Linked DNA regions of Homo sapiens: region 2 is linked to region 1. A link means that fine-mapping ties the variant in region 1 to the expression of a gene that starts in the linked region. Tissue or cell type: whole blood. Region 1 holds a variant in brackets; the other region holds the start of a gene. All regions are shown on one strand. Distances are between the middles of the regions.

Region 1 (4,300 bases):
CTGTGGGCTGGCTGGGAGCTCATCGTGGTGGTGGGCCTGGGGCCCTGAGAGTAGCGCCATCTCTAGTAGCTGGAGCTGTTTCTCCTCGGCCTTGTGCTTTCCTTCCGTGATCCTTAGTAAGAGTCTGAGGTGTGGCCTATGGAACTGCCCCTCACATTTGTGGGGCTGGAACAAGAGGCCTACATACTAGATGTCTAAACATTCAAAAATTATAAATAAGCCAGGCTCACGCCTGTACTCTTACCTACTAGGAAGGCTGAGGTGGGAGGGTTGCTTGAGCCTAGGTGTTTGAGTTCAGCCTGAAGAACATAGTGAGACCCTGTCTCAAAAAAAAAAAGTTATAAATAAAACTAACAAACTGTTAAATAAATAAAATGTGGCTGGGCGCAGTGGCTCACGCCTGTAATCCCAGCACTTTGGGAGGCCGAGGCAGGTGGATCACCTGAGATCAGGAGTTCGAGACCAGCCCGGCCAACATAGTAAAACCCCATCTTTACTGAAAGTACAAAAATTAGCTGGGCGTGGTGGCTCATGCCTGTAATCCCAGCTACTCGGGAGGCTGAGGCAGGAGAATCACTTGAACCGGGGAGGTAGAGGTTTGCAGTGAACCAAGATTGCAACACTGCAGTCCAGTCTGGGCAACAAAGTGAGACTCTGTCTCAAAAAAAAAAAAAAAAAAAAAAATATATATATATATATATATATATATATTCACATATATATTCATATGTTCATATATATGTATATATATTCTAACCTCCTACTTTGACAAATATACCTTTATAATGACAAAGCTGAAAAATATGTAACTCAAAGTTGCCAACATATCAAAATTGATTGAATTTAATTATTGTTGTATATGTCTAGATGTTCTATTAATGTGCCAGAGATGATTGCATAAGTAATGAAGGTAAATGTCACTTATAAATTATTCTATTTTTCCATAACGTTTATTTTTCTTGCCTTTATTTTAGAAAATCACAAATTATATTAATTTGATGAAGATCTTCACCTAATTTGTGTGCTGTTGATAGTAATGATCTAGATAAAAGTATAAAAGTCATTTTTTCTAAAAAGTATAGAATCTGAATATTTTTCATTAAAATATACATTGCAATAAATGTAAAACACTAAGAAATTAAGGCTGGGCGAGGTAGCTTTGGGAGGCTTAATTTTGGGAGGCCAAAATTAAGCACTTTGGGAGGCTGAGGCGGGTGGATCACCTGAAGTCAGGAGCTCAAGACAAGCCTGGCCAACAAGGCAAAACCCCGTCTCTACCAAAAATACAAAAATCAGCCGGGCGTGATGGCGCATGCCTGTAGTCCCAGCTACTTGGGAGGCTGAGGCATGAGAATCGCTTGAACCTGGGAGGTGGAGGTTGCAGTGAACCGAGATCGCGCCACTGCGCTCCAGCCTGGGTGACAGAGCGAGACTCCGTCTCAAAAAAAAAAAAAAAAAAAGAATGAATAAGATCTAGTATTTGCTAGCACGACAGGGCGAATATAGTAAAACAAAATTGTACATTTAAAAATAACAAAACCTAGGCAACATGGCAAAACTCTGTTTCTACGAAAAACACACAAAAATTAGCAAGGTGTGCCGGTGTGTGTCTGTAATCCTAGCTACTCAGGGGGAGCTGAGAGGTGGAAGGATCACTTGAGCCCAGGAGGTTGAGGCTGCAGTGAGCCAAGATTGCTCCACTGCACTCCAGCCTGGGTGACCCTGTCTCAAAAAAAAAAAAAAAAAAAAAGAACAACAAAAAAGCCTAGAACAATATAATTGGATTGTTTGTAACACAAAGGATAAATGCTTGAAGTGATGGATACCCCATTTACCCTGATGTGATTATTGTGTATGGCACGCCTGTATCACTCAGCTCTTATATCTCATGTAACCCACAAATATGTACACCTACTATGTACCCAGAAAAATTAAAAATTAAAAAAAAAGATTAAAAAGAGAGAGGAAAAAAGAGACCTGAGGGAGCTTGTTCCCCTCTTCCGCCACGTGAGGATGCATAGAAGGCACCAGCTATGAGGAATAGGCCCTCATCAGACACTGAATCTGCTGGTGTCTC[A/G]ATCTTGGACTTCTCAGCCTCCAGAGCTGTGAGCAAGAAATTTCTGTTGTTTATAAATTACCTAATCCAAGATAATTTGTTATAACAATCTGAATAGCCAAAGGCATCAACTTATCTATTAAAATAAAAGGCAAAATATTGGTTTAAATAAATGAATATAAAAAATTGAAAGCAAATTTTTTGAATAAAGACAATTATTCTAAATTTGATTTTACAAAAATTTAAATTTTATTACACGTTTTTACAAAAATAAAACTATTTCCAATTCTAGTATTCAATATCTAGTATTTACCTCACAGCCAATGTAATAATTGAGCTTTATGCATTTACATCTAGGCCTACATATTTACTAATTTAAGAGTAATAAGAATTATTTATTTATTTTTAGGTATTTTGCTAAGCACCATACTCTTTATTATTATTTTAAAATTTCATAGAGGGTCTCACTAATCACTATGCCCAGGCTGGTCTCAAATTTCTGGCCTCAAATGATCCTCCCACCTGAGCTCCCAAGTAGGTGGGATTACAGGCATGTGCCAGCATGCCTGGCTCCATAATACAAATTATTCGATATTGAAAATATTCCTCAACTACTGTGCACAACAGTTAAGAATGCTCTGGTAGTCGACGAATACTTCCATAGTCGTGTTTGAAACAGGAAGGGAAGGAAGAAAACGAACATTCAGCCCTTCTGGTGAAAGATATGTTGTGCTTATATAAAAGGGTTTGACAAATTAATTCATTTGTCTTTTCTTTTACTGAAACAATTCTCCACTGAAATCTTCCCTGTATTCTAAAGCAGAGTTCATCAGCAACATTGGTTGTGCGGCAACCCACACACCTTTACAGCGTTCGGATTTCGTTGCCTTTGTTTTGAAGACATAAGGTGAGAGATGTGCAGAAATGTTAGTCACAAAAGAAGATGTTAGGATTATGTGGTGCCCTGTGCCAGCACTGAGTTCAGCTCCTGAGAGAATGAGGTACCTGCACGTGTGTGTGTGTGTGTGTGTGTTTGAGACAAGGTCTCACTCACTCTGTCACCGAGGCTGGAGTGCAGTGGCATGGTCACAGCTCTCTGCAGCCTCAACCTCCCCAGCTCAAATGATCCTCTCACCTTGACCTCCTAAAGTGCTGGGGTTACAGGCATGAGCCACTGCTCCCAGCCATGTGTGTTTGATTTATTGTAACATTTTCACATACCATAAAATTCATCCATTTAAAGAGAATACTTTAGTGGTTTCTAGTACAATTCGGAGTTGTGCAACCATCACCACCAATTCCAGAATGTTTTCATCAGTACAAGAGAAACCCCGTACTCATTAGCAGTCACTTCCCATTCTCCCCTCCCCAACCCCCTGGCAGCCACTAATCTACATTCTGCCTCTATAGATTTGCCTATTCTGGATGTTTAATATAAATGGAATTGTAGAATATGTGTCCTTTGTGACTTATGTCTTTCACTTAGCACAATATTTTCAAGGCTCCCCCATATTGTAGCAGATGTCAGTACTTCATGGCTGAATGAGATTCCAGTGTATGGATACACCACATTTTGTTTATCCATTCATCAGTTGATGGCCATTAGGGTTCTGGCTATTATGAATAATGCTGCCATGAACATTCATGTACACGTTTTTGTGTGGGCATGAATTTTCAATTTTTTTTTTTTTGAGACAGAGTCTCACTGTGCTGCCCAGGCTGGGGAGCAGTGGTGTGATCTTGGCTCTCTGCAACCTCCACTACCTGGATTCAAGTGATTCTCCTCTCTCAGCCTCCTGAGTAGCTGGGATTATAGGCATGCACAACTATGCCTGGCTAATTTTTTGTTTTTTAATTTTGTGTTTAACTAGAGACAGGGTTTCACCATGCTGGCCAGGCTGGTCTTGAACTTCTGACCTCAAGTGATCTGGCTGCCTCGGCCTCCCAAAGTGCTGGGATTACAGGCATGAGCCACCGCGCCTGGCCATATTTTCAGTTCTTCTGGGGATATACCTAGGAGTGGAATTTCCAAGTCACCTGCGTTCATTAACAATGTTTGTGTGTATGTATGTGTGTGTGTGTGCATGTGTGTGGGTTCAGGGAAGGGTCCTTTTGCTTAAGTTTAAGGGTGGTATTGGCAGCCCATTCTCTGCTGTCCTGTGGGGAATGAAGGAAAGGGCTTTTGTCACACTGGGCTGAGTGGCCAGAAAAGGGTAAAACCAGAATGGTGGCTGTCACTTGTGA
Region 2 (4,000 bases), 51 kb before region 1:
TTGAAAAGGCGCAGAGCCCTATACCTCATTTCCTCCATGATAAAAGGATCCAAGTGAGGCCCTGTCACAGCCTGTGGGTAGGGGATGCGGCGGGATCCTCATTGCCATGGTACTCAAAGGTAGAAGAGCCTGGAGTTTGTTGCTTCTCTTTGCTATTCTTTCATATCCTCTTGGGCCTGGTGATTAATTAGCAATTCTCATTCCTCTCAGCCAAAGGCCTGCACTGGGCTTTATTTGTCTTTTTTTATTTTTTAAGCACTGCCTGCCAGAGATGGGCCTGGGGCCTGATGAGGACCTTAGCGCTGCTCGTTCTCCTTTTCTGTTCATGCACACATTCCTCCATGGGGTGGGGAAGGCAGGCATGGGGTGTGGCCCTCGGAGAAGTTAGGAGTCCCCCAGCTCAAGATACAGTGGCAAAGACCTAGTGGTCCCCTACCCCCACTTCTCTCAGTTCCTGGCATGAGGAGAGAAGACCCTGCTCTGGTGGAGCTGACAACCTTTGAGGCTGGGAGGAGAGCAGCCTCTGGGCATCGTTCCCAGTGTCCCTCACACTAAAACGGCGTAGATGGCAACCCCCCACCCCCACCCCGCTGCTCAACTCTTGTGTTTGTTGTTCTGTTTGCCCCATTTATCTGTTGCTGTTTTTGTGTTGTCTTCCCCTGCTCCGCATTTTGTAAAATGGCCCCTGGGGGAGTGTTTTTGCTGGATCTGCTCCCTCTCGCTCTCTCACTCCACTACTTTTTGGAACAAAGTGATGGCAGAATGCGGTGGTGGTGGGGGTCTTTTGTACTGTTGGATTAATAAAATGATTTTAAAATCCCAGACAAGGACTCCTTGCTGTTGCTGTGTGAAAAGGCTGGAATGAGCCGCTGTCACTGCTGGGTAGGGTGCTTAGGGGTTGAGGATATGTATGCTCCCCAGGGTCCCTGGGAGTGGGAATGGCAGATTTGGCCCCTGAGCTGACCCTGGTATAAGCTGCTGAGCCAAGGGAGGCCTGTGTTTCCCCGCCCATCCCCCTGTGTCTCCACTGTGAGAAACTGAGTTTCCTTTTTGAGCATATTCCTGGGCCAGGCCTGGAGCCAGGCGGATTTGGCACCACAGCCTCTGGAAGACAAGTGCTTGAGCTCTTCTGGGTTTAGCACCCCACCCACCTCCCAGTTGTTTGGGTTAGGGAGCAAGTGTCGCTCTAAGGGTGAGGGGAGGGGCTGCTTCTGTCCTAGCAAATTTCATTTTGGGATGTTTTTCAGATCGTTCCCGTCCCCCAACCGTTTTTTAAAGTAGCAATGGCATCTTTTAAGCAGTCTGTTTTGGAGCAGATTGGGGAGAATGGCAGGAGGGCTATTTCCACACCCTGGATTTGCGACCTGTCCCTCTCCCTTCCCCCATCTCACAGCTGTCTCTGTCTATCCTGGGGCCAACCTGGCCCCTTGTCTTCGTCATCTCAGAAGACGGCACCGTCTGCTTTTCTCTCAGTTTGTGGGGGTTCCCTCTAGAAACTGTTTAGACACTGGGAAAGAAGGGCAGGAAACTCAGGATTCGGTTAGCTGGGACCCCGGTCGCCCACCAGGAGGTAAGCCCAGGTTTAGGGCCGTGTCGCTAGACCTCCCTTCCCCTCCCCTGGCTCTCAATTCCTGCTCTTATTGGCCAAAAGTTTCCGCCCCCTTGGGGAAGTTGACTTTTCATTGGTCAGTTTCTGGTCACATGATTTTCTTCTCGGGCTGCAAACAAAGGGAAGCCTGCAACAAGTTAAGCTGAAGACCGAAGCAAGAGCTGGTTCAGGTAATGCCTTAGCTGGGAAGGGGTCCACAGATTCGCTTTGAAGGGGGTGGAATAAGGAAAAGGGAAGGCGGAACTAATCTAGAAGGAATGAGCTGCTTTTCATTTCTGGGCTGGGGGAGGAAGGCCAGGTGCCGACGCTAACACAACAGGAACTTGCTCTGGGTACCCCAGGCAAGTGGCCCTAGATCCTTTGCTTTAGCGGTTTGGAGGAGCAACTGTTAGAGGAGTTTAAATTAACTAGAGGCGAGACTTCCTAGCTTTATGCTGAGTGGGAGAGCTCCCCCTTTAGCTGTTTTTTAGAAATAGCAGAAGTCTCTGTCATAATCCTTACAGGAGGTGTTTGTTGAATCCTGCCTGAATGAAAAGAAGGGGGTGGAGGGAGGGAGTGGAGGTGGGTTTTCTTCCAGAAGGTCGATGAAAAGAAAAAGATCTGGAAACACAGCAGGGAAGGGTGGAGATTAGACAGCAGAAGGAACTTCCTAATAAGGCAGTGAGATGCTGGCTTGGGAGAAGAGGTGTTTTTTTGAACCCTGGGTTAACCTAACCAAGAAAGAGGTATCAGGGTTTGGAACCCAGAGTATAGGAGTTTCAGAGTGTCTCCTATTTGGGTCTCATAAGTATTTGTTTTGTTGACCCAAATACCTTTGCTGGTTTCCATGGAGACAGTGGGTCTGACATCACTGTGGTTGCCATGGTGCCTGGTTCTAGAGGACCTGAGCAGGCTGCACACACAGCTAGGGATAAACAGGGACTTCAGCCCAAGCTGCTGCCACTTCCTTCCTGCCACCACCTGTTAACAGTCAGCAACTGGGGATGGGGAGATGATAACAAGGGCGGGGGTGGAGCCACAAGCGGAAGGCTGAACAGCCATGGCTCTATGGATACTTACAGATGCATGCCAGGGTGTCCTGTTGGATTTGGTACAGGGAGGTCATTGCAGCCATTCTCCTGTCTCCGTGTGGAATGGGTGCATGTGTCTGGGAGGATGGGCATTGGGAAAGACCTATCCAGGACTTGGATCTTGACTGGCAGGAGCCACAGGAGGTTACTTAGGGCACCACGCAGGACTTGAAAACAGCTCAAACAGAAGGGGATAATGTGGTTGGTTTCAAAGGTAGAACTGCCATACTCTCCCAGCCTCACTTCCCTTTTCCTGAGTTTTCTTATAAAGTGCTCGGGAAGCAGTCATTTATCCTGTTCTGAGGGATCACAATCCAGTACTCTTGAGAGGTCAGCTCATCTATCCTTCCACCTTTATGCCTGGTCCCAACAGGAGCTGCCTGAGGGAACTGTTTTAGCCTTGGATGAAGGGGCGGATCCCTCTCTTCTTACCCTGCTTTGTGTCAGTCAGGCTTTGGAAACTGGAGTGATTCCCTCCCCTATCCCTGTCAAGTCAGAGCAGATTAACCGGGTGCAGGACCATAGCCCTGATTTTTGTCTATTTTTTGCAAGCTATAAAGTGATGTATATATACATGATAGTTGCCATAAATCCATTTTCCCAGTCACCTTCAAGTTCCCTAAGACCAAACTCTGGCGATTACTAAGAAGGTAAACAGAATTTAGGATGAAGACTGAGAGTGATGAGGAGACTTATAAAAGGTGCATCCAGGTGGATCTAAGCTATGCCAGTGGCTCTTAACCCTGGCTGCGCATGAGAATCATTTGAGTGGTTTTTTAAAAGACCCACAGCCGGGCCTACCCCCCAACTCAATTGAATCAAAATCTTAGGTGATTCCAATGTGCAGCCAAGATTGAGAACCACTGAACTAGACCATACCAAGGACTTATGCTGGGCAAGTGGTGGGACACTTAGGGCTGAAGGAGGCCATTGAGTCTTCCCTTCCAGGTCCTGGGGGAGAAGGTAGTGATTGTGTAGGTACCTGGTGTTGTGAAGGGAGGGCTGTGTTGTTTCCCTGCTCTTCTTATTAACAAGTCTTCTTATTGGCAAGTTGAGTCTGTCAACCTTGCTGGGCTTCATCTTCCCTGACTCAAATGTCAGGGGGCTGGACTGGAATTCCCCAGAGCCTTTCCAGCCTATGCTACTTTGACCTTTCAAGGTCAGTTCAGTTTTCCAAGGCCCTGTTGGTCCCTGGAAGAGGCTGGCTTCTCTGTGGGTGTTGGCAGATTCTGATTTGCAAGGCAAATACTGCTTAGAAGAGCTGGGGTGTCAGGGAGAGAAGGACTGGAACCAGGCTTGGTTCTGGAGGCTGCTGCCCAGC

Evidence for each region. PIP is the estimated chance that this variant, and not a neighbour inherited with it, causes the effect.
Region 2: PBXIP1 starts here. The variant in region 1 is fine-mapped to the expression of PBXIP1 in whole blood (INTERVAL, PIP 0.98).

What each region holds. Positions count from the first base shown.
Region 1 is chr1:154,902,407-154,906,706 of GRCh38, reverse strand. No RefSeq gene overlaps it. Among named protein-coding and RNA genes, the nearest start is that of PMVK, 32 kb to the left of the region's middle. The variant A/G (reference allele first, on the strand shown) is at 2,078.
Region 2 is chr1:154,953,848-154,957,847 of GRCh38, reverse strand. PBXIP1 (PBX homeobox interacting protein 1) reads left to right here and starts at 1,749. Exons shown (of 11, transcript NM_020524.4): 1 at 1,749-1,779. PYGO2 (pygopus family PHD finger 2) reads left to right here. Exons shown (of 3, transcript NM_138300.4): 3 at 1-822.